3 linked regions of the Homo sapiens genome follow. The protein of the gene in region 1 interacts with the protein of each later gene in a pairwise test. Each region holds a gene or a part of one and is shown in the gene's direction. Other genes may lie near its edges.

Region 1 (3,654 bases):
TTCTTCATTTACACAATTAGAAAAATAACACCTACCAAAGGAGTTTATATATATATATATAATATATAAAATAATAATACTCTATATCGATAGATCTATTATAGATCCTTTATTATAGATCCTTTATAGATTTATTAGAGATCCTTTATACTTTAGTTTTTTTATTTTTTTCTTTTACCTGTATGTACACCTTGGTTCCAAGACAAATGAAAATCTATCTATCTATCTATCTATCTATCTATCTATCTATCTATTGAGAGAACACATAATGGGGATTCAATACATATTAGCTTTTATTTACAGTAGTACAGCAACACTAATGTATATAATTATAAATTGTATAAGATGTACAGTAAACATTGAAAATTGGACAATTTATGTGGTCTTCAAAAACACATTCATACAAAAGTTAAACAAATATACTCTGAACTATTGTTTGTTCAAGGCTAGTTCATTTAATGTTTTCATTTTTCATTTATTTTAATTCGTTTTTTAGGAAAATATTTGGTGGAGACTGAGTCCCACTATATTGCCCATGCTGGTCTCAAAATGTTGGCCTCAAGCGATCCTCCTGCCTTGGCTTCCCAAAGAGCTGGAGTTACAGGCATGAGCCACTGTGCATGGCCTGTTTAATTCTTAATAGATTAATGTGCTTTGGTGTTTATAATATGGTATGCATTTTGGAATTATTATAAAGTTTAGTAATCACATTATAGAATATATTTCTTATTGTATAATTTAAGAAGATCCATGACTCAGAAAAATAATACTAAGATAATTATAATAAATTACTTACATTAAAATATGTATTTTGTAATTAAATCCTAAACACCAACCACTAGTATTATTTTTATTAATAATCTTAATCTGTTTACAAAATATATATTTATTGTATAAAATTTGGTAAGTTGAGAAAAATGTAAAGAAGACAATAACTACCATAGATTAGTGACAAACTGAAAACAAACAATTGCAGCTTGTAACAAAGAATTATTATTGACTTTAGTAGAAAATTACTCTTGCATACAAATCAATTTAAAAAGGTAAACACCTCAATATAAAAATAGGTAAAGGTAATGGATAGGCAATTCTATGAAAGTAATATTGTAACCATAGAAATTCATGTCAAAGCAGCAATTATACACTTTTTATTAACTCCTGGACTAGTAAAGACTACAAAAAGATAAGGCAAACTCTTGGTGAGGGTGTGAGGAAACCGGAACTCATACATTGGAGAGCACTTTGAAAATATTAGAGCCTAGCAATTTTTCTTTTAGTATTGCATTCTAATAGAGCAGCAGTACAAAGATGCATCTACGATGAGGTATATGGCAATATAACTTATAAGAAAGAATATTTCAAAAAATACTATAAATAATCTGATAGTATGAAATTAAGCAAGTTATGATATATTTATAAAATGGAAGTTGATGAGTCTAAAGATTGCAAATGTGTATTTGTTTAACAATACTATGAGCATTTCTTAATGCCATTAAATAGCCTACCTTTAGTATGTTTTTAATTTTTCAGTATTATAAATAAATATATGATGAACATCATTGCATATAAACTTTATCTACATTTGTAGGTTACTTTTAGGATAAATTACCACAAATGTATTTACTATGTCAAAGTGTATAAACATTTTTAGGTTTCTTGATACATATTAGTTGGATGGGTTATGAGGAGAGAAACAATAATACACTCTGTTTTCAAAGTTTGAAGGTATTTATTAAGTGTGAGTCCCTGATCATCTTTTGCCTTTGTACTTTAGTCAGTTTTTCTGTTATTTTACCTTTTTCTTTTACCTTTATGTACACCTTGGTTCCAAGACAAATGAAAATATAATGTACCACGTAAAATTTGTTTTTTCTTCGTTTGTTTTTAATTTTTTTTTCATAATACCATGTTTTATCCTTCCAGACGTGGGTTGGCAATAAGAGAAGAAAGATGAGTAGTAAGAACTCTGAATCTGGAACAGCAACAACAGGAACCTCTTTGTCAGCTCCAGACATCACAGTCAGAAATGTGGTTAATATTGCTCGACCCTCAAGCCAGCAGTCTTCTTGGACATCTGCCAATAATGATGTCATTGTAACTGGTATATACAGTCCAGCCAGTTCATCAAGTAGGCAAGGAACAAACAAACATACAGACACACAAATTACAGAAGCACATAAAATCCCTATTCAGAAAACAGCCACTAAAAATGATACTGAGTTTCAGTTACACATTCCTGTCCAAAGACAAGTAGCACACTGTAAAAATGCTTCCCTACTCCTAGGTGAAAAAACAATTATTTTGTCAAGACAGACAAGTGTGCTAAATGCTGGAAACTCAGTATTCAATCACGCAAAGAAAAACTATGGAAACTCTTCAGTACAAGCTTCTGAAATGACAGTACCTCAAAAGCCTTCTGTGTGCCACCGACCTTGTAAAATTGAACCAGTTGGGATTCAAAGGTCATATAAGCCTGAACACACAGGCCCAGCATTACATAACTTATGTGGGCAAAAGCCAACTATTAGAGACCCTTACTGTAGAACACAAAACTTGGAAATCCGTGAAGTGTTTTCATTGGCAGTTAGCGATTACCCCCAGAGAATTCTGGGAGGAAATGCCCCACAGAAGCCTAGCTCAGCAGAAGGAAATTGTTTGTCCATTGCAATGGAGACTGGAGATGCTGAGGATGAATATGCCAGAGAGGAAGAGCTGGCATCGATGAGAGCACAGATACCAAGCTATTCGAGATTTTATGAAAGTGGCAGTTCCCTTCGAGCTGAGAACCAAAGTACAACCTTGCCCGGACCAGGAAGAAATATGCCAAATTCACAAATGGTGAATATTAGAGATATGTCAGACAATGTACTGTATCAAAACAGAAACTACCATTTGACACCACGGACCTCATTACATACAGCATCTAGTACAATGTACAGTAATACCAATCCATTACGGAGTAATTTTTCTCCTCATTTTGCATCATCAAACCAATTGAGATTATCACAAAACCAAAACAATTACCAGGTAATGTGTAAATTTATTTTATAAAGGTTTTAAAAACTGTGTGTGTATCCAGTTAGATTTGGGACCTGGATCACTTAACTCATATATTGAAGTAATGTGAGATTTTTGCTTCAAAGTGGTGGTTTGGGGTTAACTCCTTGAAGAATCTTGTTCTTTGTTTCTCATGTTTTTAAATGATGAGGTCTTTTTTTCATGGAATATAGTCATTTTTATAACATGGCAGTCTTTCCCTGCATTTAAAATGATTTTGTTCTGGAAATGAGAGCTTAATGGGTAGCATGGAATTTCCCATTACTAAAATAGGGTTAAATTGGTCGGGCTCATGATCTTGAACATAGATTATTCCTATAATGGTTTTCAGTTGCATTTTGGGGAGCTGTCACTAGATGAGTGGTGGCTTCCCTGGTACATAACCAGGCAAGTCAATAATTTCTTTAGGTGCTGATGGCTGATAAGTCAGAGGCTATGGTAACTCAGCCAACTGCTTTTTAGAAATGTAAATGCTTTATTAAAACATTAAGTGAGAGAGTAGTCAAATAGTCATTTAAAAATGTTTATAGGGAAAAGACATATTCTGAGTAAGAATTATTGCAATTTTAGACCTGTGCTTAAAATAGTTGTTATTTA
Region 2 (3,654 bases), on another chromosome or scaffold:
GCCAGCCTACTGACAGCCCAGAAGATGCAGTTCTATCCTCAGATGTAAGGTGAAAGGTGCTGAGGGACACTCACCTGTCCTGGGCCTTTGGAAGTGGAGAAGCCCCAGAGGTTCCTATGGCATGTGTCCCATCTTGCTTGCCTGTCCTGTCTGGAGTTGGAGGACACTGAGACATGCAAGGTGTCCTCCCATTTCCAGGCTTAGCTCTTTGTGGTGCTGCTAGAGTGAGTTTTCCCAGCAGGCCCATATTTGGGATTGGACTACACCAGTGGAGTCAACTTGTCCTGGCTTGCAAGAGATTCTGTACATCTGTTCCCAACTCTGAGTTCAGAGACACTGCATTGGTAGCTTGAAGTCAGCCACAATGGGAGTATTTGTACCATGGATGTTGGCAAACACTACAAATCAGGGCATTTTCCCAAAGACTTGGTCGTTAAGCATGCATCAGCACACCACTGGATTGCATTCATCTGGGACTCTGGACCTACCCTTTTCTCCTCTGCTACCACCATTCTCATCTCACCTGCTATCTTTCTTGTGGTGCTCATTACAACCAGTCTGACCCAACCTCTGCTACCCTGGCATCCTGCCTGAGGCCTACTGCTGCTTTGACCATCACACTAAACTATGCAGGTTTAGTATGTCTGCTCTGGTTTTGGGTTCCATGAAGACTCAGCATTTGCCTCTATTCCCTTGTTCCTATGTCCTCCTTGCCTGGCATGCCCTTTCTCCTTTAGTTGGCTGAGGCTTCTCCCAGGCCATTCCAGGCCATGCTCAGAGACACATCCACCAAACCTAGCAACAAGCTTGTTCGCTACTGGTGGGAGTGTGTTCGTTTTGTGTTCTGTCCAAGGCAGGAGTTCACAGTAGCTGATACAACTGGGGGCAAATTAAAAGCAGGTGGTGTGAGAGGAGTGAGCAGATTGGTCCAGGTCGCAGAGGCAGCTGCCCAGTGTGAAGGCCCATGGGCTCAGGTCACTAGCTCCTCCCTCCTGTCCCTTCCCCTGGAGGTCAACTGGGCTTTCTTGAGTGGCCTCCTGTCTACAGGTGTAGTCCGCTAGCATGATTCAGAAAACCTGGGTTTTGTCCCAGCTGACTGCTGTGTGACTTCAGCGCACTGGGCCTCAGTTTTCTCATCCCTACAAAGGGTGAAACACCTAACTGGCACTTTATGTCCAAGCACACACTTGATAAACCAGAAAGTTTCATGCTTGTATGAATTGACATTGCTCTCTGTACAGTTACAGTATCATCTTTTGGCTTTGGCCTCTCAGTCTTTAGGAGTCATAAAACACTATAGCTATCATTATACTGAACCCGTACTTAAAAGTGCAGCATTGGCCGGGCGCGGTGGCTCACGCCTATAATCCCAGCACTTTGGGAGGCCGAGGCGGGAGGATCACGAGGTCAGGAGATTGAGACCATCCTGGCTAACACGGTGAAACCCCGTCTCTACCAAAAATACAAAAAATTAGCCGGGCGTGGTGGCGGGCGCCTGTAGTCCCAGCTACTCAGGAGGCTGAGGCAGGAGAATGGCGTGAACCCAGGAGGTGGAGCTTGCAGTGAGCCGAGATCCCGCCACTGCACTCCAGCCTGGGCGACAGAGCGAGACTCCGTCTCAAAAAAAAAAAAAAAAAAAAAAAAAGTGCGGCATTGTGCTATCTGTATGTATCAATTAGTTATTGCTGTGTAATCAGTTACCCTAAAATGTAGAGCCTTAACACAATAAGCATTTATTTAACTCAAAAATCTGTGGGTCAGTGATTTAAGCAGGGCTTGGCTGAGCAGTTTTTCTGGTCTCAGCTGGGCTCACTCACATCTGGAGGATGGAGGATGGCTGATCAGTTGGATGCTGGGCGTGACAAGACTGCATGGCCCTCATTAGCCAGAAGGCTTGTCCGACTTGTTCTTATGGCAGAGACCGGTCCGGAAGGTGTGGAAGCACAAAAGCCTTCTCTTTTTTGAGACATCTCACTCTGTTGCCCAGGCTGGAGTGCAGTGGCACAATCACAGCTTCCTGCAGCCTTGACCTCTTGGGCTCAAGTGATCCTCCCTCTTCAGTCTCCCAAGCTGAGACTATAGGTCCATATCACCATGCCTAGCTAATTTTCGTATTTTTTGTAGAGATGAGATTTCATTACGTTGCCCAGACTGGTCTTGAACTCCTGGGGTCAAGCGATCCACCTGCCTCAGCCTCCCAAAGTGCTGGGATTACAAGCTTGTGCCACTGCGCACCACCACACCCAGCCTACACAAGGCTTCTTGAGGCCAAGGTTTGGCACTGGGATCTTGTCGCTTCTGCTGCATTCTATCGGCCAAAATAAATCACAAGGCCAGCCCAAGTTCAAAGGGTGGAGAAGCAGATTCTGCTCTTGAAGGTAGGAGGTGAAAAGTCATATAACAAATGGTGTGGCTGTGGGGAAGGGTAGAGAATTGGGGCCATTTTTGTAATCAGTCCACCAAGCATCTTCCATGTATAATCTCATTTAATACCCATAAGAACCTTAGGAAGAAGCTACTATTACCCTCATTTTACAGATGAGAAAATTATTGTACAAAGAGATTGAGTAATTGGTTCCAGCTCCCACAGCTCAAGAATGCCAGGGCTGGGCTGTGAACCCAAGCAGGCTGACTGCAGAGTCAGTGCGCTCACTCTCTCTGCTCTGTCTGCTCCCTTTTCCAGCTGTCAGACGTGGGGATGGAGAGAAAGACACTCAGAGTTCAAGGAAGGGTGACGAACCTGTGAGAAGATGACTTGGGGAGGGAGGAAGGTTGCTGTGGGCAGTTTGAGTGGGGCTGCCATGGGAGCCCAGCTCCATTCCTCCCAGGGCCAGCCTCGGTGGGGAGGGACCATAATCAGGTCAGTCCCCGTTGCCTCTTTCAGGTTTTCCTCTCTGTCCTGCAAAGCCACTAGACGGCTTGAAAGGATGTGATGTTCTGTGTTCCCTGAGCTGACTTAGACCTGAGCATATATGCAGATGCAGCCAGGTGAGAATCAATTCATTGGTTGGCCCCTAGCCTCAAAATGGGGTGGTAAGTGGGCTGGTGAGAGGCCTGTGTACATTCATAAACCAGCTGATTGAAAAGCAATATTTCAGATAAATACAAGCCAGCGATCTATCAGTGGTTGTAATAAAACCCAGGCTTCAGGCTGTGATTTTATTTTGAAATAATAAGAATTGCTTGATTCTTTTTACTTGAGTTACCATGGTAATTCCGGCGTGGAGCAGTGTTATATTGATTTAGAAAGTGGACAGTAATATTTCTTTTGTGTTATTCTGTTTCTAGGCCTTGATTTCTAATTTCCACTTGGAGATTACTTTTATAAATTTCTTAAGTCCTTCCACTTTTTTTTCCTCTCACAGTATAATTTTCCTCTCATACGCCGCTATGTTCTGAGCTTATTGGTTTGCTCTTATTTTAAATTAAACTTGCTGGTTTCAAATATTGAAATGACATCTTTGTCTGTGTCTGTACTTTGGTTTAGCAAAATATTACAGTCTGACGCATTCTGCTTAATAATTTAGGGGAGGCATTCTGTCGGCCCTCACTGGGTGCTGATAACTTATGACTCAACCAACGCAGGCCTTAAACTCCTGACATTTTAATATTGTGTGGCGGGAGTGGCTGCCCCTCTTCTCTGAGTCTCGGCGG
Region 3 (3,654 bases), on another chromosome or scaffold:
TAGAGAAGACGCCACACTCTGAAACGAATTGAGTCCTTTATTTAAGCCGGCAGCCAAAGAGACGGCTAACGCTCAAAATTCTCTCGGCCCTGAGGAAGGGGCTTGATTAACTTGTATACCTTGGTTTAGGAAGGGGAGGGGAACTCAAAGGCAATAATTCTACAGAAGTAAAAACATGCAAGAATCAAAAGAAGCAAATGGTTACAGAGCGATAAACAATTTAAAAGACAAATGGTTACAAAAAGCAACGGTACCAGGTGCAGGGCTCTAAATCCTTCATTATAGTTAGACATAGATGCTATGCCGGACACGAACTCAAGGCTTTATGTTGTTATCTCTTTGAGAAGAATCCTGGGAACTTCAGACGTTGTTGGTGCCAGTACCTTATCAGTTAATTGGGCTCCTTTGAAATGCTGAGGATCTGCTTACACAGGTCAACTCCTTGCGGAAGGGGGTTGGGTAAGGAGCCCTTAGTGTCTTGTAAATTAAGGGGTCAGTTGGAGTTTGTCCGGCTTTCCCAGCTAGAGAGAGTCTTATTTACATGAGAAACAAGGCTAGGTGATTAAAGAGACAAACAGGGCAAAATTTAAAGTAGCGAGTTAGAGTAAAAACAGGGTTAGGCATCGCACTGTCTCCGTTTCTAAACTGCCAGTTGAGGTGCAGGTTCTGTTCGCATCCTCTCCACCCCTGAGCGCAGCGTGTGAAGCTCTCCTCCTGGGAGCCCAGGCCAGCTGGCCTTGCCAGGGAGCACGGAGGAGCCAGCGGGCAGTCAGAGCGTCCTGGGAAGGGCCCAGATCTTGCTTCAGGTTTGTGTTCATGGAGTGCAGAGTAGGGAGCAGGCTCTGCGTCCCTCAGGGTGGCTCCACAGGAGAGGAAGCTGTGCCTTTTGCACACATCTTGGCTGGACTCAAGGTTGAGTTGGGCCAGACCCTGGGACTTTGTTTCCCTCTCCCGTATCTGGGGTCTATGCTGGCGTCTGGAAGCAGGTGTTTCCTCTAATGTGTCTGGTGTTCTAGTTGTTCACAGCCGCAGGGAAAGACTCATGGCAGTGAGTCCCTCCTGGTCAGAGGCAGAAGCGCCCCTCACCTTTGGTTAGAGAAGGACACTCCCTCTCCCTAGGAACTGGGTGGGCGGGGCCTGTCTCTCCTCCTGCACCGGAGCCACCTCACCTCGTTGTCCTCCCGCCTTGGTGGCTCCTTGCGGGGTCTGTCATCCCTATGCCTGCCCTTTGACCCTAGGGTAACATGTCTCTTTTCTCGGGTTGCTTTTAGAGTTTCCATTTTGTTGCTGATTTTTCAGCAGCTTGATTATGTGCTGTTTGGTATGATTTTCTTTCTGTTTATCCTGCTTAGGGTTCACTGAGCTTCGTCATCTGTGATGTCGGCTTTCAGCTCATTTGCTTCGTCATCTGTGATGTGTGGCTTTCAGCACATTTGTAACATGTCTGGCCTTGTTGTAGACGCGTCTCCTGTCTTTGCGTTCATCTGGGCTCCTGGTTCCTTGTGCACCTTGTTCATGGTCTCCAGAGCTCTGCTCATTTTTTCTTCTTTGGCACCTTTCCTTCTGAGCTTCAGTTTGGGTATTTTCTGTTGCCAGGTGTTTATATTCACTGCCTTTTCTTCTGCGCGCTCTGAACCTGCTCTTCATCCTATTTAGTGGATGTTTGATTGTACTAAAGTATACATAACGCAAAACTGGCTGCTTTAACTATTTTTTGGTGCACACAGTTCAGCAGCATGAAGCGCATTCACACGGAGGTGCAGCCATCACACCACCCTCTCCAGAACATTCTCATCTTTCCATACTGAAGCTCTGTCCCCAAGAAACACTGGCTCCCCCTCCCCGCCCACAGCCCCAGCACCCCCATTCCACTTTCTGCCTCTGTGGATTGGACACTCTAGGGATCTCAAAAGTATGAAAGGCTCCAGGAATTTGAGTGTCATATTTGCACTTCTGTCAGAAAGGAGGGGCATCACAGCCTGGGGATGGGGAGGGACCACAGCCCAAGCTGAAGCGGGGGACCGGCCCGAGAGGGGCGCGGGGAGAGCGGAGGCACAGCCTGTCAGGACAAGCTGGGGAACCATTCATCTTTTTGTAGCCATTTTTCCTTGTATTTGACAGATGCTTCTCAGGCAGCATGAAGAAGAAATAAGTAAAGACTTTCCATCCAGTGAGATCCAGCGGCTCCGAGAGCAGAACACGAGCTTGCGAAACGCGATTGCCCAGATGAGGAAAGAAATGGAGGCTCTAAGCCATCAGATTCCTCCTCCCATCCAGACAGCGGCAGAGAGCACAGATGCAAACCAGCCTGACCCAGAGGCTGGGGGAGATGCCGCCACTCCTGGTGAGTAAGTGGGAGAAACGGACAGAGCGGGAGAGGAAGGGGGAGAGGGAGGGAGGAGGACAGACGGGAGCATGGGTCTTGACTGGCTTCAAGGAGGCTTCATTTCAGAGTCCTATAAGTTAACATCCCCTGTAATAAACTCAAAGTATGAAAACTGCTTTTTCTCCAAGAGAAGGGATCTTAAGTTTTATACCAAAAAGCTTTTATATTTGTAAAGTGGAAGGAAAAAATGAGGGTACCTGCTTGACACACTTAAAAACCTGTTTTAGACCTGGACCAGGGCTGGCTTGCTGTCGCGCTGTCCCAGAATGGGTTGGTAGCAGGGGCTGGTGGACCTCAGTCCTTTCCTCCAGAGGAGCGTCTGTGGCAGAGCTGATGAGGGCCTCCCGACCCCCAGGGACCCCATGAGTGGCTGTGGGTGGGCAGATGCCGGGATGGAGGCAGAGCTTCCGTTCTCGAGATGGGACTTGGCCCCTCTGCACAGAGGCACGTGGGCTGGCGGCAGGTGGAGCATTTGCTCCTGATCACTGAGCCCTTCCTGGAGAGCATGGAGACTGTGCTGGTCTCTGGCTGGCACACTCTGGCCAGTGAGGGGAGGGAAGGTCTTTCAGTCTGACACACACAGAGAGTGTGGAAACTACGGTGAAGCTGTAGTGTGAGGAGGACAGGGACAGTGAAGCTGGCGGGCATGAGCTGGCATCGGCTCCCTGAGCTGGTGCTCACAGGAGGGAGGTGCGAAAGGATGCTGTGTATGTGTTATATTCACTGGAGGTTTTTTTGGCAGATTATGTTCTGGCCCTTGAAGCAGAAATACGAACTCTAAAGCATAAGTTTAAAACTCTGGAAAAGCATCTAGAAGATGTGTTGGATCCTTTAAAGATGTCCTCACCTCATGCTGAGTCTCAGCCCAGCGTCCGCACCTCGACAGAGACGACTGGTAAGTCCGCGTCTCAGTGGGGTACTTGCTGTCCCCTTATAAACTGAAATCTGACCCCTGCAAAAGTCCGCTCATAGCAAATATACAGCTCAAGGCTACTGCAGACGTTGGGGCGGCGTCATCCAGCCCAGCAGCCCCTTGTGCTCCCTCCAGAGCCCACGTGCCCTGGCTCCTCACTGCAGTCAGCGTTCCCTGTTTTGGTGTGAATGGAATTCCTTGTGCTCCCTCCGGAGCCCACGTGCCCTGGCTCCTCACTGCAGTCAGCGTTCCCTGTTTTGGTGTGAATGGAATTCCTTGTGCTCCCTCCAGAGCCCACGTGCCCTGGCTCCTCACTGCAGTCAGCCCTCCCTGTTTTGGTGTGAATGGAATTCCT

Evidence for each region.
Region 2: the proteins of HDX (region 1) and LMO1 interact in binary tests that used the Homo sapiens proteins (3 or more experiments, as listed by UniProt).
Region 3: the proteins of HDX (region 1) and CCDC57 interact in binary tests that used the Homo sapiens proteins (3 or more experiments, as listed by UniProt).

What each region holds. Positions count from the first base shown.
Region 1 is NC_000023.11:84,467,845-84,471,498, reverse strand, and holds part of HDX (highly divergent homeobox), read left to right. Parts: intron 1-1,923; coding exon 1,924-3,027; intron 3,028-3,654.
Region 2 is NC_000011.10:8,253,810-8,257,463, reverse strand, and holds part of LMO1 (rhombotin-1), read left to right. Parts: intron 1-3,654. UniProt on the Homo sapiens protein: May be involved in gene regulation within neural lineage cells potentially by direct DNA binding or by binding to other transcription factors.
Region 3 is NC_000017.11:82,171,328-82,174,981, reverse strand, and holds part of CCDC57 (coiled-coil domain-containing protein 57), read left to right. Parts: intron 1-2,121; coding exon 2,122-2,344; intron 2,345-3,128; coding exon 3,129-3,281; intron 3,282-3,654. UniProt on the Homo sapiens protein: Pleiotropic regulator of centriole duplication, mitosis, and ciliogenesis. Critical interface between centrosome and microtubule-mediated cellular processes. Centriole duplication protein required for recruitment of CEP63, CEP152, and PLK4 to the centrosome.